7 linked regions of the Homo sapiens genome follow. The protein of the gene in region 3 purifies or fractionates together with the protein of the main gene of each other region. This does not show direct contact. Each region holds a gene or a part of one and is shown on either strand. Other genes may lie near its edges. The genes, in order: SKP2, NLRP2, SUGT1, CLIC4, RNF41, CNOT6 and NLRP3.

What was found.
Region 1: the proteins of SUGT1 (region 3) and SKP2 purify together in Homo sapiens (affinity purification with mass spectrometry; 3 studies listed by BioGRID and IntAct, with this or other methods). This does not show direct contact.
Region 2: the proteins of SUGT1 (region 3) and NLRP2 purify together in Homo sapiens (affinity purification with western blotting; 2 studies listed by BioGRID and IntAct, with this or other methods). This does not show direct contact.
Region 4: the proteins of SUGT1 (region 3) and CLIC4 fractionate together in Homo sapiens (co-fractionation; one large-scale study listed by BioGRID). This does not show direct contact.
Region 5: the proteins of SUGT1 (region 3) and RNF41 purify together in Homo sapiens (affinity purification with mass spectrometry; 3 studies listed by BioGRID and IntAct, with this or other methods). This does not show direct contact.
Region 6: the proteins of SUGT1 (region 3) and CNOT6 purify together in Homo sapiens (affinity purification with mass spectrometry; one large-scale study listed by BioGRID and IntAct). This does not show direct contact.
Region 7: the proteins of SUGT1 (region 3) and NLRP3 purify together in Homo sapiens (affinity purification with western blotting; one study listed by BioGRID). This does not show direct contact.

The regions. Positions count from the first base shown.
Region 1 is NC_000005.10:36,165,611-36,169,110, forward strand, and holds part of SKP2 (S-phase kinase-associated protein 2), read left to right. Parts: intron 1-908; coding exon 909-1,052; intron 1,053-2,702; coding exon 2,703-2,837; intron 2,838-3,500. UniProt on the Homo sapiens protein: Substrate recognition component of a SCF (SKP1-CUL1-F-box protein) E3 ubiquitin-protein ligase complex which mediates the ubiquitination and subsequent proteasomal degradation of target proteins involved in cell cycle progression, signal transduction and transcription.
Region 2 is NC_000019.10:54,986,874-54,990,373, forward strand, and holds part of NLRP2 (NACHT, LRR and PYD domains-containing protein 2), read left to right. Parts: intron 1-3,148; coding exon 3,149-3,319; exon of another isoform or gene 3,320-3,500. UniProt on the Homo sapiens protein: Suppresses TNF- and CD40-induced NFKB1 activity at the level of the IKK complex, by inhibiting NFKBIA degradation induced by TNF. When associated with PYCARD, activates CASP1, leading to the secretion of mature pro-inflammatory cytokine IL1B.
Region 3 is NC_000013.11:52,676,836-52,680,335, forward strand, and holds part of SUGT1 (protein SGT1 homolog), read left to right. Parts: intron 1-3,138; coding exon 3,139-3,320; intron 3,321-3,500. UniProt on the Homo sapiens protein: May play a role in ubiquitination and subsequent proteasomal degradation of target proteins.
Region 4 is NC_000001.11:24,751,947-24,755,446, forward strand, and holds part of CLIC4 (chloride intracellular channel protein 4), read left to right. Parts: intron 1-3,500. UniProt on the Homo sapiens protein: In the soluble state, catalyzes glutaredoxin-like thiol disulfide exchange reactions with reduced glutathione as electron donor. Can insert into membranes and form voltage-dependent multi-ion conductive channels.
Region 5 is NC_000012.12:56,201,679-56,204,922, reverse strand, and holds the end of RNF41 (E3 ubiquitin-protein ligase NRDP1), read left to right. Parts: 3' UTR 1-2,744; downstream 2,745-3,244. UniProt on the Homo sapiens protein: Acts as E3 ubiquitin-protein ligase and regulates the degradation of target proteins. Polyubiquitinates MYD88. Negatively regulates MYD88-dependent production of pro-inflammatory cytokines.
Region 6 is NC_000005.10:180,570,879-180,574,378, forward strand, and holds part of CNOT6 (CCR4-NOT transcription complex subunit 6), read left to right. Parts: intron 1-351; coding exon 352-554; intron 555-3,109; coding exon 3,110-3,322; 3' UTR 3,323-3,500. UniProt on the Homo sapiens protein: Poly(A) nuclease with 3'-5' RNase activity.
Region 7 is NC_000001.11:247,443,673-247,447,172, forward strand, and holds part of NLRP3 (NACHT, LRR and PYD domains-containing protein 3), read left to right. Parts: intron 1-299; coding exon 300-470; intron 471-978; coding exon 979-1,149; intron 1,150-3,500. UniProt on the Homo sapiens protein: Sensor component of the NLRP3 inflammasome, which mediates inflammasome activation in response to defects in membrane integrity, leading to secretion of inflammatory cytokines IL1B and IL18 and pyroptosis.

The sequences.
Region 1 (3,500 bases), on a different chromosome or scaffold from region 3:
TCTACAGTCCACCTTTTTAATGATAGATTTGTCACACAAATCACACTGACAATTTTTTTATGATGAAGTTATTTCATAACTCTGGCCAGTGGTCCACTTATTTCAAGCACTATTAAAAAAGAAAATTCTAGTACACCTAAGCATTTAAAATGTTCCTTCATGTGCTTATATTTCACATTTTCTTTTTTTAAATTGAATTAAACTATGGATATTAAAACCCTCTTACTGTGCTATTCAGTACGTTTTTAGAACATCCCTTTTGTTTTAGAAACACCATCTATAATCCGTTGTATTTTTCCCTTATTTCACATTAGTTCATACACACACATATGTACACATACATATACACGTGTATGTTTTAAGCTTCAAATATATTATAAGGCACAGCTGAACCATGACTGTTGCTATTGAATATCTATGACAGCCTTATTTCATAATAAAATAATGCTAACTTTCGTTCCTTTAGTAATTTTCCATGTTGCTACAGTAATCATAATTGCTTGACAAAAGTGTCAAATAGATTTAAAACTTCTTAGAGGATCCTATTTGCCTAGTAATATAATAATTAATTGATTTGAGCAATCATTTTTTAAATTTGTCAACTTGAATGCTGGAATATGATTCTCTGGTTCTAGATCACGGCAGTGCTAATGTTCACATTGAACCATCTAAATTGGAAGTATATAGAAAGAGAAAGATGGAAGCTTATCCCTGGTGAAATCAAGAAAAATTCTCTAGTGCCTTAAAAATATCATAGCTAATTGTATAGCCAACTTAAAAACAAAAGTTCTTTTAGAATATGCTTCAAGGAGATTTAGCAGCAGTGTCCTACCTGTTAGTAATGTTGTTGAGGGCTTCCAGCATTTAGTGTGACCGACTGGCCAAATTAAGTATCTCCTCTTTTATAGGTCTGATGAGTCTCTATGGCAGACCTTAGACCTCACAGGTAAAAATCTGCACCCGGATGTGACTGGTCGGTTGCTGTCTCAAGGGGTGATTGCCTTCCGCTGCCCACGATCATTTATGGACCAACCATTGGCTGAACATTTCAGGTAAAGATGAAAAATCCCTGGAAAAGACTATTTCTAAATTTCGAGGTAGAAACAGATCAAAGCTTTTTTTTTTTTTTTCTTTCTTCAGCCTTAAAGCCTATGGTAGGTTATCTGTGCAGTGTGGGATGTTAATTCCATACTTTGCTATGGGGCCTTTGTGCTAAAACCTAGCATAGATTTCAATGACACTGTTCCCATTTCACTCAAGTTTACTGTTAGTCTCTTCCCAGGGTGAAAGAGGCACATTTGTCTTCTCAAGTCCTCAGCTGATAGGGGGACTGTGAGTCCCACAAGGCAGGCACAAGTAAAGCACTCACTGGCAGATGCAAGGGTGCCCAGTTACTTCCCCAATGCCCATTTCTGATAAATAAAAAAAAGTGAGGAGTCTTTTCATGTTTGTAGCTTGGGGTTTATGATTTTTGTCTTGGAGAAATTTGGAACCTGAAAAAAATGCCCTCTTTTTGTTTGTTTTGTAGAATATTTTGAAAAAGAATTTTCTGTTCTGATAATTTTGCAATACTGAGGTTACTGCTATCACATAGTAGAATAACTAGGTACTGAACAGAAAAACAAGCTGAAGACAACAAAGCTAAAGATAAAACATGTCTCCTGACTCCAGTACTTTTTCCCTTCTTTCCGTAGTCAGGACCGCCTCTCCCACTGCTTTTTATCCTGTTCCTCCTGTGGCTGTTCCTTCTCAGTCTCCTTCACATATGTGATTTCCTCTGTTCACTCCAGGGTCGGTTCCTGGCTGCCACCTTTTTCAAATCCAAATGCTGTCCCTGGACAAGCTGTGTCCTCTACACCCACATTTATGCCCAGGACTCTCAGTTCCTCATCTATAGCTTGGCCCTCCCTTTCAAATTCCCAAATTTCTAATTACCTAAAAACGTCTGTACCTGAATTTCTTACAAGGACTTCAATATTAGCATAACTCAAATTTGGCCTCCCTTTTTTTTTATTGTTTTTGTTTTTTGAGACGGAGTCTTGCTGTGTCACCCAGGCTGGAGTGCAGTGGCGTGATCTCGGCTCATTGCAACCTCTGCCTGCCAGGTTCAAGCAATTCTGCCTCAGCCTCTCGAGCACCTGGGGACTACAGGTGTGCGCCACCACGCCCAACTAATTTTTTGTATTTTTAGTAGAGACTGGGTTTCACCATGCTGGCCAGGCTGGTCTTGATATCCTGACATCGTGATCCACTGGACTCAGCCTTTCAAAGTGTTGTGATTACAGGCGTGAGCCACTGCGCCCAGCCTGGTCTCCCTTTAAAACTTTCTCTTCCGCTACCTTCCCTGTTCTATTGCTGCTCACCCACTCACCCCTGCCAGAAACCAGGAGCCGTTATGGTCTTAATCTCCTTGTCACCCACATCCAGCTCATTGTTGTGATGCCCACTCGTTATTTTCTAAGTGGGACTATATTGGCAGCAACATCTGTACTTGGCAAAAATCCTCTTGCATTTTAAAATGAATGAAGATGGGAATACACTAGTAGCAATATGTTTTATGACCCTATAGTTAATGCTTGAAGTATGTATTTAGAGTCTTGTTTGTGATTGGCTGCTCATTTGGGGAGAAGAGGGGTCTGGTTTGAAATTGGATGTACCCGTGAGAGCCACCTATGGAGCTCCTTTTTTCTCTCCGTGTTTAGCCCTTTTCGTGTACAGCACATGGACCTATCGAACTCAGTTATAGAAGTGTCCACCCTCCACGGCATACTGTCTCAGTGTTCCAAGTTGCAGAATCTAAGCCTGGAAGGCCTGCGGCTTTCGGATCCCATTGTCAAGTGAGTGGCAGGCAGAGTGTCACAAAGGCAGTTGATTTTATGTGTATGAATTTTTTTCCCTGTATATAACTGGGGTGCCCTTCTAGCCATATCCAGGTGGATACAGAAAATATCTAGTGCAGTGCTCTAGCTTCTGCAAAACTTTTCAGGACTCATTGAAGCAACAAAAGCTTGAATGCTAACTATATGCCAGGCCCTGTGCTAGGTTCTAGAGATACAAGTACAAGGATGAACAATGCATGTGTATTATTTGGGAAGAAAATGAATGCTCTAAAACTTTTCCCACCTTGTTAGTGAATGCTGGTTAAGCTATAGTTTACCTTCTTGCAAGAGGAAACATTGAGCAAGACATGTCTATTTTCTCTTGCAAGAAGGTAAACTATTTATGAGCAAGACAGATAATTACCATGCAGTGTGTTTATTAAATGTTTCAGTGAATATGTGGCAACACACGAGGAGCCGCCTTGTTAGAGGAAGTGACTCTTGAGTATTGAAGATATCTAGGTAGGAGATCTCTAGGTAATAAGACAAAGCAACCAGTCTAGGTAAAACTTCCTGTGTGGTTCTAAACTCTTACGTAGTTGGAAGTTGCTGGAGCACAGGACTAAGGGAGGAGAGTGACAAGGTGAGGAGAGTCAGGGACCAGATTGTAATGGGCCCCTA
Region 2 (3,500 bases), on a different chromosome or scaffold from region 3:
TTGGTTTTTTCTTTTTCTTTTTTCTTTTTGAGATGGAGTCTCGCTCTGTCACCCAGGCTGGAGTGCGTTGGTATGATCTCAGGTCACTGCAGCCTCCACCTCCCAGGTTCAAGTGATTCTCCTGCCTCAGCCTCCTGAGTAGCTGGGATTACAGGTGCACACCACCACACCTGGTTAATTTTTGTATTATTAGTAGAGATGGAGTTTTACCACATTGGCCAGGCTGGTCTCGAACTCATGACCTCAGGTGATCTACCCCCCCACCCCCACCCCACCCCGCCGTCGGCCTCCCAAAGTGAGGCATGAGCCACCGTGCCCAGCCCAGAATCTTTATCTTCTATCAGAGATCATTCACTCATGGTTCATGCTTCTCCTGTATGATGATTCAGAATACCAGCTATTGACATTTTTCAAGCAAGAACCCTTCAGGAACATCAAGTTGCCCCTTTTCTGTTAGTCCTCTGGTTTGAGAGCTCTCCCCTTGGGAAGCTGTCCAGTGGCTGCCCAGGCGATGAGAACCTACATGCATCATGGGGTTCCATGAAGCCTCACTTGGCCACACTGGTGTAGTAGGTGGTCATTGGCCTCAAATTATTGCCCTGGGCCAGGCGCAGTGGCTCACGCCTGGGAGGCCGAGGTGGGTGGATCACTTGAGGTCAGGAGTTCAAGACCGGCCTGGTCAACATGGTGAAACTCTGTCTCTACTAATAATACAAAAATTAGCTGGGCATGTTGGCGCACGCCTGTAGTCCCAGCTACTCAGGAGGCTGAGGCAGGAGCATCATTTGAACCTGAGAGGCGGAGGTTGCAGTGAGCTGAGATCACACCACCGCACTCCAGTCTGGGCAACAGTGTGAGACTGTCTCAAAAAAAAAAAAAAAAATCTTGGCTGGGTGCGGTAGCTCATGCCTGTAATCCCAGCACTTTGGGAGGCCAAGGCAGGTGGATCACAAGGTCAGGAGTTCAAGACCAGCCTGGCCAACATGGTGAAACCCCACGTCTACTAAAAATACAAAAACATTAGCTGGGCATGGTGGCGCGTGCCTGTAATCCCAGCTACTCATGGAGGCTGATGCAAGAGAATTGCTTGAACCTAGGAGGCAGAGGTAGCAGTGAGCCAAGATCACGCCATTGCACTCCAGCCTGGGCAACAGAGCAAAACTCCATCTCGAGGACAGAAAAAAAATTGATTGCTCTGGCTCTACTGATACAATCTTAGGCTGCTTAATGGGATCTTAGTTGAATAGGATGCTGTACATCTTACAGGTATTGGAAGGTTGAATGAAACCAAGCCCATGCATTCAATAGTGGCTGCTATCATTACTAACCGTTGCAATTACCCTCTTTTCTTTTTGCCTGAGAATAATGGGATGCAGGGTGAGGGGGAATATTGGGTGAATTAAAGATTTGGGTCACTAATTTCTTTCTTTTTTTCTCAAGATATAGTCTTGCTCTGTCTCCTAGGCTGGAGTGCAGTGCCACAATCTTGGTTCACTGCAACCTCTGCCTCCCGGGTTCAAGTGATTCTTCTCCGTCAACCTCCCAAGTAGCTGGGATTACAGGCACCCACCTGTATTTTTGTATTTCTAGTATTTTGTATTTCTAGTAGAGACAGGGTTACGCCATGCTGGTGGCCAGGGTGGTCTCAAACTCCTGACCTCGGGCAATCCACCACACCCAGCTAATTTTTGGTATATTTAGTAGAGCCGGGGTTTCACCGTGTTGGCTGGGCTGGTCTCGAACTCCTGACCTCAAGTGACATCCATCTTCCAAAATGCTGGGATTACAGCCATGTGCCACCACGCCCAGCTAATTCTTGTATTTTTAGGAGAAATGGGGTTTCATCATGTTGTTCCGGCTGGTCTTAAACTCCTGGCCTCATGATCCACCTGCCTTGGCCTGCCAAAGTCCTGGGATTACAGGCATGAGCCACTGTGCCCAGCCACTCATTTCTTATGAATTTATTCTAACACATTTTCCGGATGAACAGGGCACCTTGAAACATAGGTTAGTGGGCTGGGTATGGTGGCTCCTGCCTGTAATCCCAGTACTTTGGGAGGCCTAGGCTGGTGTATCGCTTGAAGTCAGGAGTTTTTTGTTTTGAGACGGAGTCTTGCTCTGTCGCCCAGGCTAGAGTGCAGTGGAGTGATCTCGGCTTACTGCAACCTCCGCCTCCTGGGTTCAAGTGATTCTCTTGCCTCAGCCTCCTGAGTAGCTGGGACTACAGGCACGTGTCGCCACGCCCATCTAACTTTTGTATGTTTAGTAGAGCCGGGGTTTCACCATGTTGGCCAGGATGGTCTCAAACTCCTGACCTCCTGATCTGCCCACCTCGGCCTCCCAAAGTGCTGGGATTACAGGCATGAGCCATTGCCCCGGCCAAAGTTAGGAGTTTGAGACCAGCCTGGCCAACATGGTAAAACCCCATCTCTACTAAAAAATACAAAAATTAGCCAGGCAAGATGGCATTTGCCTGTAATCCCAGCTACTCAGGAGGCTGAGGCGGGAGAATCTCTTGAATCTGGGAGGCAGAGGTTGCTGTGAGCTGAGATCGCGCCACTACACTCCAGCCAGGGCGACAGAGCATAAATAACTCCCTTTCAAAAAACCAAACAATGAAACATAGGTTAGCGGAGTCTGCATCCAACATTAGAGTCAGATTGACTAAGTTCTGTATTTCCAGCTGATTCCTGGGCGATGTTGGTGCCACTGGTCTGACCACCCTTTGACAACTGCTGCTCCAGATAATTCAAGTCGGGGTATAACACAACCAGTGAGATGTAAACCAAAGACGATTCCACGGTTAGATTCTCAAGAATGACTTGTTCTGCCGGGCGCGGTGGCTCACGCCTGTCATCCCAGCACTCTGGGAGGCCGAGGTGGGCAGATCACCTGAGATTGGGAGTTTGAGACCAGCCTGACCAACATGGAGAGACCCCCACCTCTACTGAAAATACAAAATTAGCTGGGCATGTTGGTGCATGGTGCATGCCTGCAGTCCCAGCTACTCGGGAGGCTGAGGCAGGAGAATCACTTGAACCCAGGAGGCGGAGGTTGCTGTGAGCCGAGATTGCGCCACCTGGGCAACAAGAGTGAGACTCAGTCTCAAAAAAAAAAAAAAAATGACGTGGTCCTATTTCTCCCACAGGTTGGTGTCTTGTTCCGCTACCACTCAGCAGTGGGCTGATCTCTCCTTGGCCCTTGAAGTCAACCAGTCCCTGACGTGCGTAAACCTCTCCGACAATGAGCTTCTGGATGAGGGTGCTAAGTTGCTGTACACAACTTTGAGACACCCCAAGTGCTTTCTGCAGAGGTTGTCGTAAGTCTCTCCTCTCTTACAGAGCAGCTGTGCTTTCGATCTGGGGCCACAGACGAGCAATGGTCATGCCTGACTTGGCTGTATGGAACCTCTCGCTGATGTGAACACCTGTTCCCATGTTTAGATCCAGGCCGATGGCCTGTGAATTTTGTTCTTCTCTCATTCCTATTCCTTCATAGGA
Region 3 (3,500 bases):
GGAGAAGAGTAGAAAACCAGGCTTCATTGTATATATAACCCTGTAAGAAACAGAACTTTGTGTTGAGGTCAATTTTAAGTATGTGCAATAACTAGGTAAGAATTTTTCTAGTGGACAAATTCACAGCACACTCAGAACTACAACCTAAGATTATATTTTATAGCAATAGCTTCATTAATGAGTGGAGGGAAATTTCTTTTTATTGGAAGTAATGGTCTGATTTAATGACTGAAACAAGCTAACATGTGTCTCAGCTTTTTCTGATTTTGACTGCTTTCTTCTGTAACAGAAAACACATTTCCTTGTGGCACCTTTTAGAAAACACTGAGTTATTCAACAGATCATTTGTGTGTGTGTTTGTGTGTGTGTGTATAGTTATTTCTTAAGAAATAATTTTGGATGTTTAGAAATTTCAAAAATAAGAGATTCTCATATAGCTTTCACCCAGTTTCCCCCATTGATAGTGTCTTAACTAGTCCAATGATTACCTCTTAAGTAGTCTGTGGTATAATTTTCAAAATCAGGGTATTAACACCAACAGATACTTTTTAAGGACTGAAGTATATCTAGTTGGTATTTAAGGTATTTAAGCATCTGCTTCACACTTTATTTGAAAGATGTATGTGTTTCTTTTAGGACTGACTCCAATAGATTTTGAGGCTGAGGTTTATATGTAGCTGAAAGCTTTAAAAAATATATAATCACTTTAAATGTAGTATCTTACTTAATTCTAACAGCCCTGCATAACAGGCAGCCCCTTAGTATTCCTCCCATTTTGCAGGCTCAGAAAAGTTAAGCTCAAGATTATCCCTCAGTTCTCATTGTCTAGGACTAAAATCTAGGTCTTCTCAGTTGGGTCCAGTTATTCTGTTAACCCGTTGTCTACTTGTTGCATACTGCTTGTTGTTGCATTTTCTAACAATGGAAACAGTCTTTGCCGACATGAGTATCTAGTAGTTATTTGATATTATAGTGAATGAGCAGGGAGGTTAGATTACTCATCTCTCAGTAGTTCATCTGCCATCTCCAGGTGTTAAAAGTTTTTCTGAGATTAAAGATCAAGGCTTTTTAGTGTTACAGTTACCATGTTTTTTCTAAACTCAACACCTTAGATATTCAAGATGATACTCTTCCTGTCCTGTTTTTGTAAGAAATTAATATACTTGTCAGATTCCTGTGTATTGCAAGCTGGAGACTGTAGATAAGGGCAAGTCACTTAACCTATCTGACCCAGCTTGCTTATCTACAAAATAGAGATTAAAACCTCTGTTCTCATCCTTCCTGGGAGTCAGCATTAGGATTAATTAAATCCATATTTCCCAGGCTCTTAACTTACCATGGCACGCATTTTTTGTTTTACCTGGCTACTAGTGAAAATGTACAAAGATAGAAGGATATCTAGTAGAAGGAAGGTGGATAGGATTTTCAAAACAATATATTTGGCCCTGAAAAAAAACTATGTGTTGGTGTTGTGTGTGTTGTTTTGTTTTGAGGAGGAATGGGCAGGGAGAAAGTCGGTTTACAAGTGAAGAGAAAGCGTAGAAAAACAGTGGATGTTAGTTTCTCAGCTATTTTGACAAAAGGGATGTAGAGAGCAGTATTGGGAGGAACATTTAGATTAGTACTAATGTGTCCTAATACATACTGATGGGGAAATTTTGAATTGGGTTTTTTGAAAACTGTAGCTCTTTTGTCCAACACAGTAGCTGCTAGCCACATGTTACCTGTTGAGCACTTGAAATATGACTAGTCTGCATTGAGATGATGTGCTATGTGAAATATATGCTACAGTTTGAAGAGTTAGTATGAAAAAAAGAATATAAAATATCTTCATTTTTTTTGTTGGTTTTTTTTTTTTTTTAAGAGAGAGTCTTGCTGTGTCACCCAGGCTGGAATGCAGTGGCACTGTCATGGCTCAGTGTAGCCTCAACCTCCTGGACTCAAGCAGTCCTCTACCCCAACCTTCCGAGTAGCTGGTACTGCAGGCATGTGCCACCACGCCCAGCTAATTATTATTATTTTTTTTTCATAGAGATGGGCTCTCACTATGTTGCCCAGGCTGGTCTCACACTTCTGGCCTCAAGCAATCCTCCTACTTGGCCTCCCAAAGTGCTGGGATTATAGGTGTGAGCCCCCATGCCCGGCCTCTGTTGGTTTCAAGTCAATATGATACTATATTTGATATATCAGGTTAAATAAAATGTATTATTAAACTGCATTTCACCTGATTCTTTTTAGTAATGTAGTTACTAGGAAGTTTTAAATTATATATGTGACTCACATTTGAGGCTGTCATTATATTTTCATTGGATAGTCAACAGAGCTGCTCCTATAGCTACTAGGTTGTCTAGTTATTTTCTAATTATTTGTGTGCCAAGATCTTGATGCCTTTGGTCTTTGGAGCAATCTTGGCAGTACCCCGAGCCCCTGGGCCAGTAGCCTCTCTCGCTGCAAGCAGCTCTGTTTACTCCAGTGTGCCCTACAAATACTATTATTTGCTAGGTGTATGGGATGTGGGCATTGAACTTTAGATCATCAAGTGTAGTACTTTAAACATTTAGAAATTACTTACTGTTATTGCCTATTAAAATAATCTTACTTTTTTGATGGGAGAGTATGGAGTGGCATGGATGATTATTTATATTTTCAGGCTATTTATACTCTGAAAGATACTAAGTACTTTAGAAAAAGTCACATTTTTAACATTTATTAAAATCTTAGTTACAAAAGATTTCTTAGGCATCCTTTAAAAAATTTCATTTTTAGAATTGTTCGTACTGTCTCTGCAACTTTTCTGAAAACATAAAAGTTCTGTATACTTTTCATCTAGTTTCTGTTATCAACATGAAGAATCTGCTTTTAATCTAATTTTGTATAGCATATCAAAAGTTTACACTTTATTGAGTTATTTTGCTCAAAAGAAATCCCCAGATTTTACATTATGGTAACTGACTCAGTTTTTAGAAATGTGAATTTTGTTATTGACCTATATACCAGAAAGACACTTATTGCATACCTGAAATTCAGTAACCTAAACTGTTTGCTAAGATGTTCCATATACATGGTCACAAAGTTTACATATTCTCGACATAATTGAAACATGTTGATTAATTACTTCTGCCTTTTTTTACTTCATAGATGTAAAGAACCTATATCCATCATCATCTCCTTATACAAGAAATTGGGATAAATTGGTTGGTGAGATCAAAGAAGAAGAAAAGAATGAAAAGTTGGAGGGAGATGCAGCTTTAAACAGATTATTTCAGCAGATCTATTCAGATGGTTCTGATGAAGTGAAACGTGCCATGAACAAATCCTTTGTAAGAATATAAACTTAAAGAAATATATATGGGAGCAAATTTTACATATTTTAAACGAGAAAATTGGTAATGTGAGACCAAATTGCGTGTACTATAGCTGGGAGAACTTTTTGAATAAGGTCTGTCTGAACGTTTCTTTTTGCTCTAAGAGTAATTTTTGAGGAAGTTGAAAACTTATGG
Region 4 (3,500 bases), on a different chromosome or scaffold from region 3:
CCACTGTGAACTGGGATGATCACTGTCAGCAAGTAGTCACCAAGCTGCTGGGATTGGGGTGGTGTTTGTAAAAAGTTAATCTGGTGCAGGGTGGCATAACACATAAGAGTCTGTTTCTTTTGAGATATTTGGCAGAGGTTCCTAATGTGCTTGGACTCTGGAGCCACACTGCTTGACTTGAATCTGGCTTCTAGTATGTCAGGCAAGTTTTTAAGCTCTCAGTGCTTCAGTTTCCTAACTTCTAATATCAGGATAATAATAATAGCAATTTTATATGGTTACTGAGGGGATTAAAACTGTTAATCTGTGCATATTAGTTAGGGTAGTTTAAGTTGCTGTAATAAGTTATCCCCCCACAAACAGTGGTTCAAATATGATGGAAGTTTATTTCTCACCCCTCAGTCCAGGAGAATGTCTTAGATGTTAGGGTGGCTTTCCTCCTCAGAGTCATTAAGGGACCCGGGCTCTTTCTAGCTTATTTGTCCACTAACTCCCAGAGCATTGTCCTCTTCTGAATTGTCAAAGTTGGTGGGTGACAAGTACTGTCTGTTGCCAGTGGGGGGTGGAAAATATGGAGGAAGCACATCTTAAGGGCCCCAGCTCAGAAGTTCTACCTGTTACTTCCGGTCACATTCTATTGGAGAGAACTTAATCACATAGCTTCATCTGCAAGAGAGGCTGGCAAGTGTGGTCTAACCGTATACCATCCTATGTAAAGCTTTAGGAAGAGTGCTTGACACATAGTAAACACCTGCTTTTGTCATCGATAATAGTTTATTATTATTATTTTTTTTTGAGACGGAGTCTCGCTCTGTCGCCAGACTGGAATGCAGTGGTGCAATCTTGGCTCACTGCAACCTCTGCTTCCCGGGTTCAAGCGATTCTTCTGCCTCAGCCTCTGGAGTAGCTGGGACTACAGGCGCGTGCCACCATGCTCAGCTAATTTTTGTATTTTTAGTAGAGATGGGGTTTCACCGTGTTGGTCAGGATGGTCTCGATCTCCTGACCCCATGATCTGCCCGCCTTGGCCTCCCGAAGTGCTGGGATTACAGGCGTGAGCCACCGCGCCCAGCCTAATAGTATATTATTTTTAAATGTGGGCTCTATTAGTAGGATCAGGGAGTTCTGTAAATCCTTGAAATTACAGTAAAAAATTCTAATGTGAGGCTTTTTTTCTGGAAATTCCTAAACCAAGGCTAAGAACCACTGTTCTAAAAGAAGTAAATAGTGGAATTCTTAGAGTCAAGAATACTTTATATAAGCAAGGTATAAAAGAAGGGCTTGGGCTAGATGATCACAAAGGTCTCTTCTAGTTATTATTAACTATGACTTAAAGAATGTACCGGCATGAACTAAGTGCTAATACTGAGTTAAGTACTATGGAAGATATAAGAAATTATTAAACAGTTAATTTCTTTAGGTTTACAAATTTTATTGGAAAGAAAACAATACAAGATGGTCCATGCTTAAAGAGTCAAGTGGGGCTCACATTAAGTAGGGCTAGGAGACATGGGGAAAGATGGAAGGAGGCTTAAACTTGACCTTGAAAAAGGAGGTGAATAGGTGGGTTCGGAATAGCCAAGAATGGGAATGTGAGTTTTGACATTATGTGGAAACTCCTTATGCAGGAAACAATTGGTAGATTGATACCTAAGAAGGAACCAGGAGTGATTCAGATCTATAGTGCCAGGGAGACAAGTTATTTAAAAGTTGAGGATGAGACTTTTAAAACCTAACTTGGGTTTTTGTTAATGTATACATTTTCCTAACTTTTTTCATTCTCCCCACACTTTCCTGTGTTTTTGGATTGCTGTCTGTTTAATAACTTTTCAGTGGCACTTGGGAAGGTGCAAATGGATTGTACAGATGGACTGTTTTGACAGTTTAAAGTGGGAATTCTTTATATTGTTTCAAGGACAGGCTTCAAACTTCCCCCCGTCTTTGTTTTTTCTAACAGAAAAAAATGAAATAAATTTTCTATAGGAAATGATGCTGAAAACTGTTCTGGTAATTAACAAAAGCTAACTCAATATTCAGACAATATTACCTTGAATCTAATTGATTTGCCATTCATTTGAGGTTTCCGGGGGGAAAATTCAGGAGACAGAAATGAATGTAAAGTATGAAGTTAATGAAAACCTATTATTTTAACTTTTTGCCTGAGCTGTTCCTGAAGACCTAATAATGCTACTTTTGGCAAAGGCCAAATTTGATGATTTTGGTTTAATGTAAAAACCTGTGAGAAAGGAGCCTAGAATGGGGAAGAGGCAGGAGGCTTTGAGCCTAGGAGACTGAGCACACGAAAAGCTTAACAGAGTATGAATAATGATAGGAAAGAGGCAATTGGGAGAAGAACCTGGCTGTCAGGAAATGTCACAGTTGGTTTGGGAAGATGCCTGCAGAGGTGCCTAGAAGCCAGTAAGTAAGGATGGTGAGCCATCCTTTTCCGCTTCCTGTTTCGTTAGAGCTGTGGAGCCTCCGTGTTCTGATGTCCCCTGAGTAGGGAATTGTGAGTCCATAAAAGGAAAATGTGTTAGGCAGGATGGGAAGTGTGATTAAGGCATGAGTTAAGATTTTGGTCAAGTAGAGGAGTAAGCTAGGATGGGTTTGCCTGTTTTAGACGCTTGCATAGAGAATGGAAAGGGACTTTCTGAAGGAAAATGACATTAGGTCATGGTTACCTATTGTCCAAGGATGATTTAAGACATGTAAATGTAATTTAGGGCATCAGCTAGTGAATTTTCTCATGGCTTTTAATTATATTGTCTATTTCGAGACTTGCCTCTTATCTCTCAGTGGTCAGTTCCAGATATTGGTATAAGAAATAAGAAATAACAATGATAGGCCCACTGCCATGGCTCACACCTGTAATCCCAGCACTTTGGGAGACCGAGGTGGGTGGATCGCCTGAGGTCAGGAGTTCAAGGCCAGCCTGGCCAACATGGTGAATCCCTGTCTCTACTAAAAATACAAAAATTAGCTGGGCGTGGTGGTGGGCGCCTGTAATCCCAGCTACTCGGGAGGCTGAGGCAGGAGAATTGCTTTAACCTGGGAGGCGGAGGTTGCAGTGAGCTGAGATTGTGTTACTACACTCCAGCCTGGACGACAGAGTAAGACTCCGTCTCAAAAAAAAAAAAAAAATTATAGGCTGGGCAAAATAGTGAGTCCTCATCTCTATAAAAACTAAATTTTTGTATTTTTAGTAGAGATGGGGTTTCACCATGTTGGTCAGGCTTGTCTTGAACTCCTGACCTCATGATCTGCCCGCCTCGGCCTCCCAAAGTACTGGGATTACAGGCGTGAGCTACCACTCCTGGCCCCATCTCTACTAAAAATACAAAAATTAGCTAGGCATGATGGTGCACGCCTGTAATCCCAGCTACTCAGGAGGCTGAGGCAGGAGAATCTCTTGAACCCGGGAGGCGGAGGTTGCAGTGAGCTAAGATCACACCACTGCACTCCAGCCTGGGCGACAGTGAGACTCTGTCTCAAAAAAAAAA
Region 5 (3,244 bases), on a different chromosome or scaffold from region 3:
ATATGGAGGTGGGAGTGTGGTTGGAGATAGAAAGGCTCCTCCCCACCATGTAATGGCTTCCTCTCAGAATTTTATTCCAGGCTAGCTTGCTGCAGGTCTGGGTAGTTGGATCATGGCTCCACTGGGATTGGGGTGGAAAGCTTGAGGGGAGTAGGGTTCCAGCTCTGGGACATTGTGCTCAGGAATTTGAAAACGCTGCTATACTTACTCTGGTTACTACATTTCTTCCACTCCCCTTTCCCCTACCTGCCTTAACCAAGGCTCATACTGTCCTGTCCTTACCCTCAGATGGAGCCAGGAAGCTCAGTGAAAGGCTTCCCTACCCTTTGCACTAGTGTCTCTGCAGGTTGCTGGTTGTGTTGTATGTGCTGTTCCATGGTGTTGACTGCACTAATAATAAACCTTTTACTCAACTCTCTAAATTCTTCAGCATTACTCCCTTTCTTGAGAAGGTTTCCCCTCTGCTTTTGCCTTTCTCTCACCTTAATTCCCTTTCTTCCTTACTTTGTTACCTACCCTTATCTTAGTGCTAACTTCTCTTTCAGGAGGATGTCTGGGAGTAGTGTGCACTTCACAGCTGCTTTCCCATGTACCCTCCTGCATTCTTCCCTCCTATCTCCTGTTCTGTAGCAGCCAAAGCTCTCTAGTGATCTGAACTGTGTGCTTCCCAGGGTCTGCCTTTATCCTAAATTCCATGTCTTCCCTGAGTGGTCCTGAGTTTTTGGGATAATTTCTACAGAAGATATGTATATATCTTTTTCCTTTGTCCCACAAGCAACTTTGCTTTAGAATCTAGAATTCCTTTGCAGGCAGAGAAGTCTCTACCTCCCAGTGTTTCCTAGCTAAGAACGTAAATGTGAGGAGGGAAATGTACTTGCAGAGGTTTCATAATTATTTACTTATAAAAATAGTCTTCATAGCCGGGCGCGGTGGCTCACGCCTGTAATCCCAGCACTTTGGGAGGCCGAGGTGGGTGGATCACAAGGTCAGGAGTTCGAGACCATCCTGGCTAACACAGTGAAACCCCGTCTCTACTAAAAATACAAAAAATTAGCCGGGCGTGGTGGCAGGCACCTGTAGTCCCAGCTACTTAGGAGGCTGAGGCAGGAGAATGGCGTGAACCCGGGAGGCAGAGCTTGCAGTGAGCAGAGATTGGGCCACTGCATTCCAGCCTGGGCGACAGAGCAAGGCTCCGTCTAAAAAAAAAAAAAAAAAAAAAAGTCTTCATAGGCCGGGCACGGTGGCTCACGTCTGTAATCCCAGCACTTTGGGAGGCCAAGGTGGGTGGATCACAACGTCAGGAGATCGAGACCATCCTGGCTAACATGGTGAAACCCTGTCTCTACTAAAAATATAAATAAATTAGCCGGACAGGCGCCTGTCCTCCCAGCTACTCAGGAGGCTGAGGCAGGAGAATGGTGTGAACCTGGGAGGCGGAGCTTGCAGTGAGCTGAGATCACGCCACTGCACTCCAGCCTGGGCAACAGAGCAAGACTCCGTCTCAAAAAAAAAAAAAAAAAAACCAGTCTTCATAAGTATTTGCTGCTACCTTTCCCTGTCATAAGAAAAAGGATAGCCAGACATGGTGGGACGCCACTATGATCCCAGCTCCTTGGAAGGCTAAGGCACAAGAATCGCTTGAACCTGGGAGGTGGAGGTTGCAGTGAGCTGAGATCATGCCACTGCACTCCAGCCTGGTGACAGAGCAAGAGCCTGTCTCAAAAAAAAAAAAGAAAAGAAAAGAAAAAGGGATATCTTTTCCTCCTCCCAGAAGTTTGTTTTAAATTTGAGCATTTATCATGCACCTGATGTAAACCTAATAGTACTCTTGATACTCTAGTGGCTTGAAAAAAAAAAAAAAGGCATTTCTGTGCTGAGTCTGCGCTTCTATGCACACAAGGTATGTTTATAAAATACTGATAAGCATGTCACAGTATAGAGCATAAGAGGCAATGTATGTATCCTAGTGACATTAGCAGTGCTTTTCCCCCCTTAAACTCCTTTAAAATTACTTTTAGAACTTGCTGCTCATTCTTGTGAATGTTATGAATGGTGTCATATTGTCCTTTTACAGAAGATACGATTTTTAGAAACAAATATTCATTGAATGTCTGCCCTGTGAGATACTCACTAGAGTGAACATGAGGAGGCTTATGTAGCAAAATGGCACCTACCTGCAAAGAACTTAGTCCCTAATGGAGATGAATATATAATAAGGGATCATAAATGTGCTAAGTGGATTTACTAGTAATATGTGAGCCAAGGACGATAAAGCTCCTGATTCTGATGGGTATCAGGAAAGGCTTTTCAGGAAGTGTTACTTGTTATAGGTCAGAGGTCAGCAAACTACAGGTTACAACCCCACTGCCTGCTTTTGTAAAAAACTTTATTGGAATACAGTTATGCCCACTTGTTTATATATTGTCTGTGGCTGCTTTCACATTACAACAGCAGGGTTAAGTAGCTGGAACAAAGCCTAAAATACTTGGTCTTTTACAGAAAAAAATTTGCCAACCTGTTCTAAACTTTTAAGGTCAGGAGAACTGGGGGAAGGAGGGAGTAGAAAGAACACTGTCACCCAGACTGGAGTGCAGTGGCACCATCATATAGCTCACTGTAGCCTCAAACTCCTGGGCTCTAGTGGTCTTCCCACTTCAGCTTCTGGAGTAGCTGGGGCTACTGCACCTGGAATTGTCTTAATCTGTTTTAATACTAGTAAAATTTTTTTTGTTTCATCTCTTTCAGTGACTTTGATACACTGTCTTAATTTTTTTTTTTTTTTTTTTTTTTTTTTTAGATAGGGTCTGGCTCTGTAGCTGAGGCTGGAGTGCATGACGTAATTTTGGCTCACTGCAACCTCCACCTCCCAGGCTCAAGTGATCCTCCTACCTCAGCCTCTTAGGTAGCTGGGACCACAGGCATGCGCCACCACACCGGGCTAATTTTTTGTATTTTTTGTAGAGATGGGGTTTCACCATGTTGCTGAGGCTGGTCTCAAACTCCTGAGCTCAAGGAATCCACCTGCCTTGGCCTCCCAAAGTGCTGGGATTACAAGTGTGAGCCACTGCACCTGGCTTCATTGTCTTAATTTTTTACTTCAGTATATACATTGGAAAAATAAAAATATTTTTGACATTACCTAAATAACAAGTGTTTACAATTAACAATGTATAATGAATAATCTACTACAAACCCATGTTTACATTACCCTAATTGTCCCAAGAAAAGTCTTTTTTTTTTTTTT
Region 6 (3,500 bases), on a different chromosome or scaffold from region 3:
ATACTAAGATGCTGATCGTGGTGTTATCTTTAATTCTTTGTAAAAAGTGGAAACAACCTGCATTTTACAAAATAAGTAACCAGTAAATATTATCCACCAGCCCAATTGCATTGTGCAGCCATTAAAGAACGATAATTGGGAAGACACATGTTCATAAAGCAAATTATAAACTATTCAATACTCTGTGATGACAACTGTGTAAAAATAGATTTGGGCAAGTCCTGGCAAATGTAAAAGGAAACATTTTGGAACGTGGGAATATGTATAGTTTAAAACTTCTTACTATTGCATGATCTTTTAAAATTACTTTTTGTATATATTTGACAATAAAAAAATTTGTCTTCATTGTAGGTGTTGTAGAATATTTGAGCACAGGTGGAGTAGAAACAAATCACAAAGACTTTAAGGAGTTGAGGTATAATGAAAGTCTCACAAACTTCAGCTGTCATGGGAAGAATGGAACCACCAATGGAAGGATCACTCATGGTTTCAAGTTACAGAGTGCCTATGAGAGTGGCCTGATGCCTTACACGAATTACACATTTGATTTCAAGGTGTGTCTTGAGACTGATAAGCTTTTCAAACCTGTCTTTTACTGGCAGGTGTTCTGATACATCATTATGTCTTTAAAACTGTGGCTGTGTGTTCAGGCTGGAATGAAGCAGTCTTGAATTCATTGACAGCAATGTTCTTTGTTTTTTGTTTGAGACAAGGTCTCACTCTGTTACCCAGGCTGGAGTGCAGTGGCACAGTGATGGCTCACTGCAGCTTCAACCATGCCGGCTCAAACGATCCTCTCACCTCGGCCTCCCTAGTAGCTGGGACTACAGGCGCCTACTACCACGCCTGGCTAATTCTTGTATTTTTTGTAGAGATGGGGTCTCGCTATGCCCAGGCTGATCTTGAACTCCTGGCCTCAAATGATTCTTCCACCTCAGCCTCCCAGTGTGCTGGGATTACAGGCGTGAACCACTGTGCTCAGCCAGTAATATTCTTTTATTACTCTTTTTTAGAAGTCCATGTGATCAGTGTCACATCCTTACTTTGTAGATATTTATTCTAATAATTTTCAGGATAAGAAGTCACATGAAATAATCTGTAAAATTCCTAAGTTGACTTTTTCACCTTTTGGGGACAATTATGTTTCTTATATTCTCATTACTAATAGCTAGATATGCAGCACCATAATTATCTAGTTTGAGTGGCATTTGTGGTAAGATGTTCCTTCTCTTACATTTTAATTTAACTGAAAGTAAACTCTTGCATGCCAAAATGTGATTTATATTAGCTATTTTTAAGTGTTTCTAAGATACATCTTTTTTCTCCCCCTAGAGACAGTCTTGCTCTGTTGCCCAGGCTGGAGTGCAGTGGCGTGATCTCGGCTCACTGCAACCTCCACCTCCCAGGTTCAAGTGATTCTCATACCTCAGCCTCCCAAGTAGCTGGGATTACAGGCATGAGCCACCTCACCTGGCTAATTTTTGTATCTTTGGTAGAGACGGAGTTTCACCATGTTGGCCAGGCTGGTCTTGAATACCTGGCCTCAAGTGATCCACCCACCTTGGCCTCCCAAAGTGCTGGGATTACAGGCATGAGCCACCGCACCTGGTCAGACTTACACCATTTTTAACGTTAGTGATTGTTTAGGGCTGTCACTTTCTTGTGTTCAACTGTCCTTTTTCTAAAAAGAGATATGGTCTCACTCATTTTGCCCAGGCTGAAGTACAGTGATGTGATGATAACACACTGCAGCCTCAAACTCTCGGGCTCAGGCAACCCTCCTGCCTCAGCCTCCCCGCTAACTTGGACTACAGGTGTCCGCCGCCATACCCAGATCTTTTTTTTTTGGTAATTTTTTGTAAAGACAAGGTTTTGCTATATTGCCCAGCCCAATCTTGAACCCCTGGCCTCAAGCAATCCTCCTGCCTTAGCCTCCCAAAGTGCTGGGATTATAGACGGGAGCTACCACATCTGGCTCAGCTGCCCTTTTAAACTACTTTTTGCATTTCTGCTTTCTTAAAAATTTCTTAACTCCCAGCTTTCTATTTCTAAGCTGCTGGAAAAGTAATCATTTAGATTAGACTGTCAGAGTGTAAATAAGAGTTTAGATAGTATCTCAGGAGCCTTTGCACCTTAGAGCATAGAAAGTAAACCCCTGTTTATCCTCAGGTGCCCCTTCCTTTCAGGTTCTTCAGGAGACATTGAAGAGAAAGCATGGGTAGCAGCCACAGAGTGGGAATGCTTAGCGTTTTCTTTCTCTTTCTGTTGCTGATGCAGTGGCAGGAAGAAGACACTTGAATGTGCTTCAGTACATTTGGCCAAGAGCATGTAGAGGGGAGGACCAGAACCATCAGATGGGAACAGTTTAGTAGATGCCATGGCGGGGTGCTGCTGAGAGAAAAGGGGGTCAGGTAGAGACAGTCCTGCCCTCATGGAGCTGAGGTGTGATGAGAGAGACAAGTCTCAACCACACAAATGAGTAGATAATTACACCTTGAGATGGCCATTAGCAAGGGAAGTGAATCTGTGGTGAGAGGTAGGGTAGTAAGTAGGTAGGAGCAGGATTCAGGAAGGTCTTTGGAAAGCAGTTGAACCTGACATTGAAAGATTAAGAAGGAATTGACCTCATAACAAGTAGAAGAAAGTGTTCCAGGCAGAATGGTGGAGGGGGGCAGTGTGTGTGTGTGTGTGTGTGTGTGTGTGTGTGTGTGTGTGTGTGTGTGTCCGTCCGTCCGTCCGTCCTGGGGCAGGAAAGAACTTGGTACCTATAGGTCCCCTCACATCCTCACCCCTTTCTCATTCCAAAGGCTAGTGTGGAAGCAGGGAAAGTGGCACAAATTAGGCTAGGAAAGAGAAGCAGAGGCTGCATCCTGAAAGGCCTTTTAGGTCTTGTTAAAGATCCAGATAAGAAGAATGCTTCATTCTGCTAGATTTGACATTTTGCACGGGGACCATTTGGTGTATGTAGTACAGACCTCATCCTACAAGCTAGTAAGTTTCACTTGTTCTGTTCTGTTCACCAAACATGACATAAAGGCATGTCTTGAAAGCACTGAGGATTTTAGTGTTGTCTTATACGGTGCTTATCTTTTTTTCTGTTGTTTTTCAGGGTATAATAGACTACATTTTCTATTCTAAACCTCAGCTGAACACCTTAGGCATCCTGGGCCCTCTGGACCACCACTGGCTGGTTGAGAATAACATCAGTGGCTGCCCGCACCCCCTCATCCCCTCTGACCACTTCTCACTTTTTGCACAACTGGAGCTCTTACTGCCTTTCCTGCCCCAAGTCAACGGCATCCACCTTCCTGGCAGGAGGTAGTCAAGCACCTTCAGAGGACAGCCTTGATTCACTTGTAAACTTGTGAAAATCTGAACATAGGGGAGTGAGGTATGGCCACTGAGGATTTTTGCTTGCTTAAGAATGATTTGGACTTTCAATCTGATTATTTGATAAGGATATAGTATGAAAGCCAGGTGCTAGCAACAGACAAATTCTG
Region 7 (3,500 bases), on a different chromosome or scaffold from region 3:
CCTGGCCGGAGGAAAGCTGTGTGAGGAGGAGGAGGAGTATGGGGTAACTGGCTCAGTTTGCCTTGGCTCTTTCTGTCGGACTCATACAGCAAAGCATCTGCTGAGACATCATTTGTGTCTCCTGTGACAGCCAGAGACAGCAGGTCTTGCTCTCCCCAGATCATATCTGAGATGCTGGCTCCTGCTCTCTGAGCTGAAGGCTGCAGCTGCTGAGAGAGGACGAGGCACTGAGTCAAAGCAGCTGCACAATGTTGGGGAACAGCTGGGTACTGAGGACTCTTCTCCCTGTCCTTCTACAGGTTGGTGAATTCTGGCCTTACGTCAGTCTGTTGTTCAGCTTTGTCCTCGGTACTCAGCACTAATCAGAATCTCACGCACCTTTACCTGCGAGGCAACACTCTCGGAGACAAGGGGATCAAACTACTCTGTGAGGGACTCTTGCACCCCGACTGCAAGCTTCAGGTGTTGGAGTAAGTCCTTTGGTTTATTACAGCAATGAGAACACATGGTGGCCAAGGGTGGAGGGACGTTTAGGCAGAGTGGCCACAAGATAATCTGTATCTTAGAAGTGAGGTGTCTTCTTAGTGTTTGCCTTGTTACAGGATCATGGGACTGGGAGGAGTCCTTCCAGATGATATAGATGTAGGAACTTGAGTCCTTACCATCACAGTTTTCTGTACCACAAAACAAGGAGGGCAGTATGACACTTACATTTTATGGAAATGTAGGGAAAGGCACAGAATTTGGTAAATCAATGAACAAACCACTGTTACTAATTTGATCTGTGCAATGCAGTGGATTTGAAAAAGAGAGAGAAGAATAATTACCAGCATACAAGGCTGCTTGAAGCTAGTTAGTCCTGTGCTCCTGTGCTTTTTTTTTTTCCACCTGAAACAAGACAGGCTAAGATGCTAAAATCTTGGGGAGCTAGGGGGATGGTTAAGGGGACATTTTCTTTAAATCACCCCCTTTTTGCAGATTAGACAACTGCAACCTCACGTCACACTGCTGCTGGGATCTTTCCACACTTCTGACCTCCAGCCAGAGCCTGCGAAAGCTGAGCCTGGGCAACAATGACCTGGGCGACCTGGGGGTCATGATGTTCTGTGAAGTGCTGAAACAGCAGAGCTGCCTCCTGCAGAACCTGGGGTGAGTGTGCTCTGCAGAGATGCCCGTGGTGGGACTCTGAGTTCTCAGGAAACGTTGACTGTTATCAAAATCCAGGATGGCTCTCGCTTCATTTGCAGCCACTCAAGATTAGGTTGGGCCTGGGTCAGTTGTGGTGGATATTTTAAAATAGAGAATATGGGGTTAAACTACACATTCCACTTCACTGAGATGGTTAGAATCACCAAGGCTAAGCTGGATTTCACCCACATTCCCCAAAGAAACACAAGCCCTCATGCGATCATGGCCAAGGAGGATTCTGTTCTACACAAGGAACCGAACTTCGTAGAACTCGTCTATGGGTCATCCAAATTGGAAGGGTCTTTACATAGTGGGGATCTTGTTGTTTTGTTTCTGAGGATTTATTTTTTTTTTCCTTGAGACAGAGTCTTGCTCTGTCGCCCAGGCTGGAGTGCAGTGGCATGATCTCGGCTCACTGCAAGCTCCGCCTCCCGGGTTCACGCCATTCTCCTGCCTCGGCCTCCCAAGTAGCTGGGACCACAGGCGCCTGCCACCACACCCGGCTAATTTTTTGTATTTTTAGTAGAGTTGGGGTTTCACTGTGTTAGCCAGGATGGTCTCCATCTCCTGACCTCGTGATCTGCCTGCCTCGGCCTCCCCAAGTGCTGGGATTACAGGTGTGAGCCTCCGTGCCTGGCGGTTTCTGAGGATTTCTAAATGGGAAAAGAGTGCTCCAGGAATAGCAAGATGGGAAATTACACGAAATTCGACAGTGTGTCAGGATATTGCCAGCCCACCTCTGTGATACTACTGAGGTAGTCGTCTCCTCTCTAGCAAGAGCTTCCTGGCGAGTCCCACGGTTCTGTCAGCCGTGATGATTGCACTTTTCCCTGAAGACGTTTTCACTGCTTGGCTTTAAGGCCAACATGCTCTCCTGGGTTTTCTCCTATTTCATCAGATCCTTCTACTCAGTCTCCTTTCTGGCCTCTTCTTCATCATCCTGACCCTTATGTGTTGAATCCTCAGAGCTTAGTCGCTGGGCTAATTTTTCTTCCCTACACTTTCTCCCTCATTTAAATTATCTGGTCTTCTGGCTTCATGATATGTGTGCTGTGGCCTCCAGATTATATGTCCATAAATTCTGTGTCTCCGTGCTTGGCTGATCTTTCTTCTTGAAGGTTTAATAAACCTCTCAAACGTCACATCTAGATCCACACCCTTGCTACTCTCTTCTACCCGAAACCTGATTCTTCCCCATTTCAGTCGATGGTCACTTCCTCCAAGTTGCTCGGGCCAAAACATTTCTGGTTCTGTCGTCACTGTCTCTTTTTCCTTATAATCATGTCCAATGTGTCAGCACATCCTGTGAGCTCTGCCTTCCCAGCTTGGCCACTCCCTGACCACTTCAGGCCAGCTTCACGGCTTCTTCCTTGGCTCAAGCCACCATCACCTGGTGTCTGGATTGTCATGGTGGCATTCTGACAGGTCACCCTGCATCTGTTATTCTGATTTTAGCAGACAAGGGATTCAGCTAAAACGTAACTCGCATCATATCACTCTTGTCAACATCGTCTTCTTATCACTTTCATAATCAGAGCAACAAACTCATGGTGGCTTCCATGCCCCACATAATCCAGCCTCTCCTGCTTCCGAAGATTCCGCTTCTCCCAACCCTTGCTTATTCTGCCCCAGTACAGTGATCTCCTTGCTGTTTTGCAAGAACACTGTCATCTCTGGATTTTTGCACTTGCTTTTCTTCTGGCCTAGAACTCTCTCCCCTTCAGTATCCACCTGCATTATTCCCTGTACCTTCCTAAATTCTCTGCTTAAAGGTCTTCTCTGCGAGGCTGTCTTTGACTATTCTACTGAAAATAGAAGCACTTTTTCTTCTCTTCTCATTCTCCTCTGCAGTGTAGCACATCTTATGTGCTATGTCATTTTCTTGTTTATTTATTATCTATCTCTGCTCCCAAAATATAAATTCCATTAGTCCAGGGACTTCTGTCCATATTAATGATCTCAAGGCTGAGAACTTGTTGGAATGCAGGTTTGAATAAATACAAGTTTGAATCAGCCTTGCATCCTTGTGCCAACATAATGGAGCACATTTGCTGCAGGACAAGCCAATATTCCCAGAGCTAAGAGAGATGGGGGAACAAACAAAGGATTGGTCAGGTCAAAGCTGGGGACACTGCTACATGTAGCATCACTGACCTAGCCCTGAGGGACATTCTGGACCCAGGCTGAGGGACAGGCTCAAAATAGATTGAAGAATCCATGAATGCAATCAACCCGTTTTCTCAGGCTGCGATAACAAGCTGCTTTAGACTGTGTGACTCAAACACAGATTTATTATCTCACAATACTGGAGG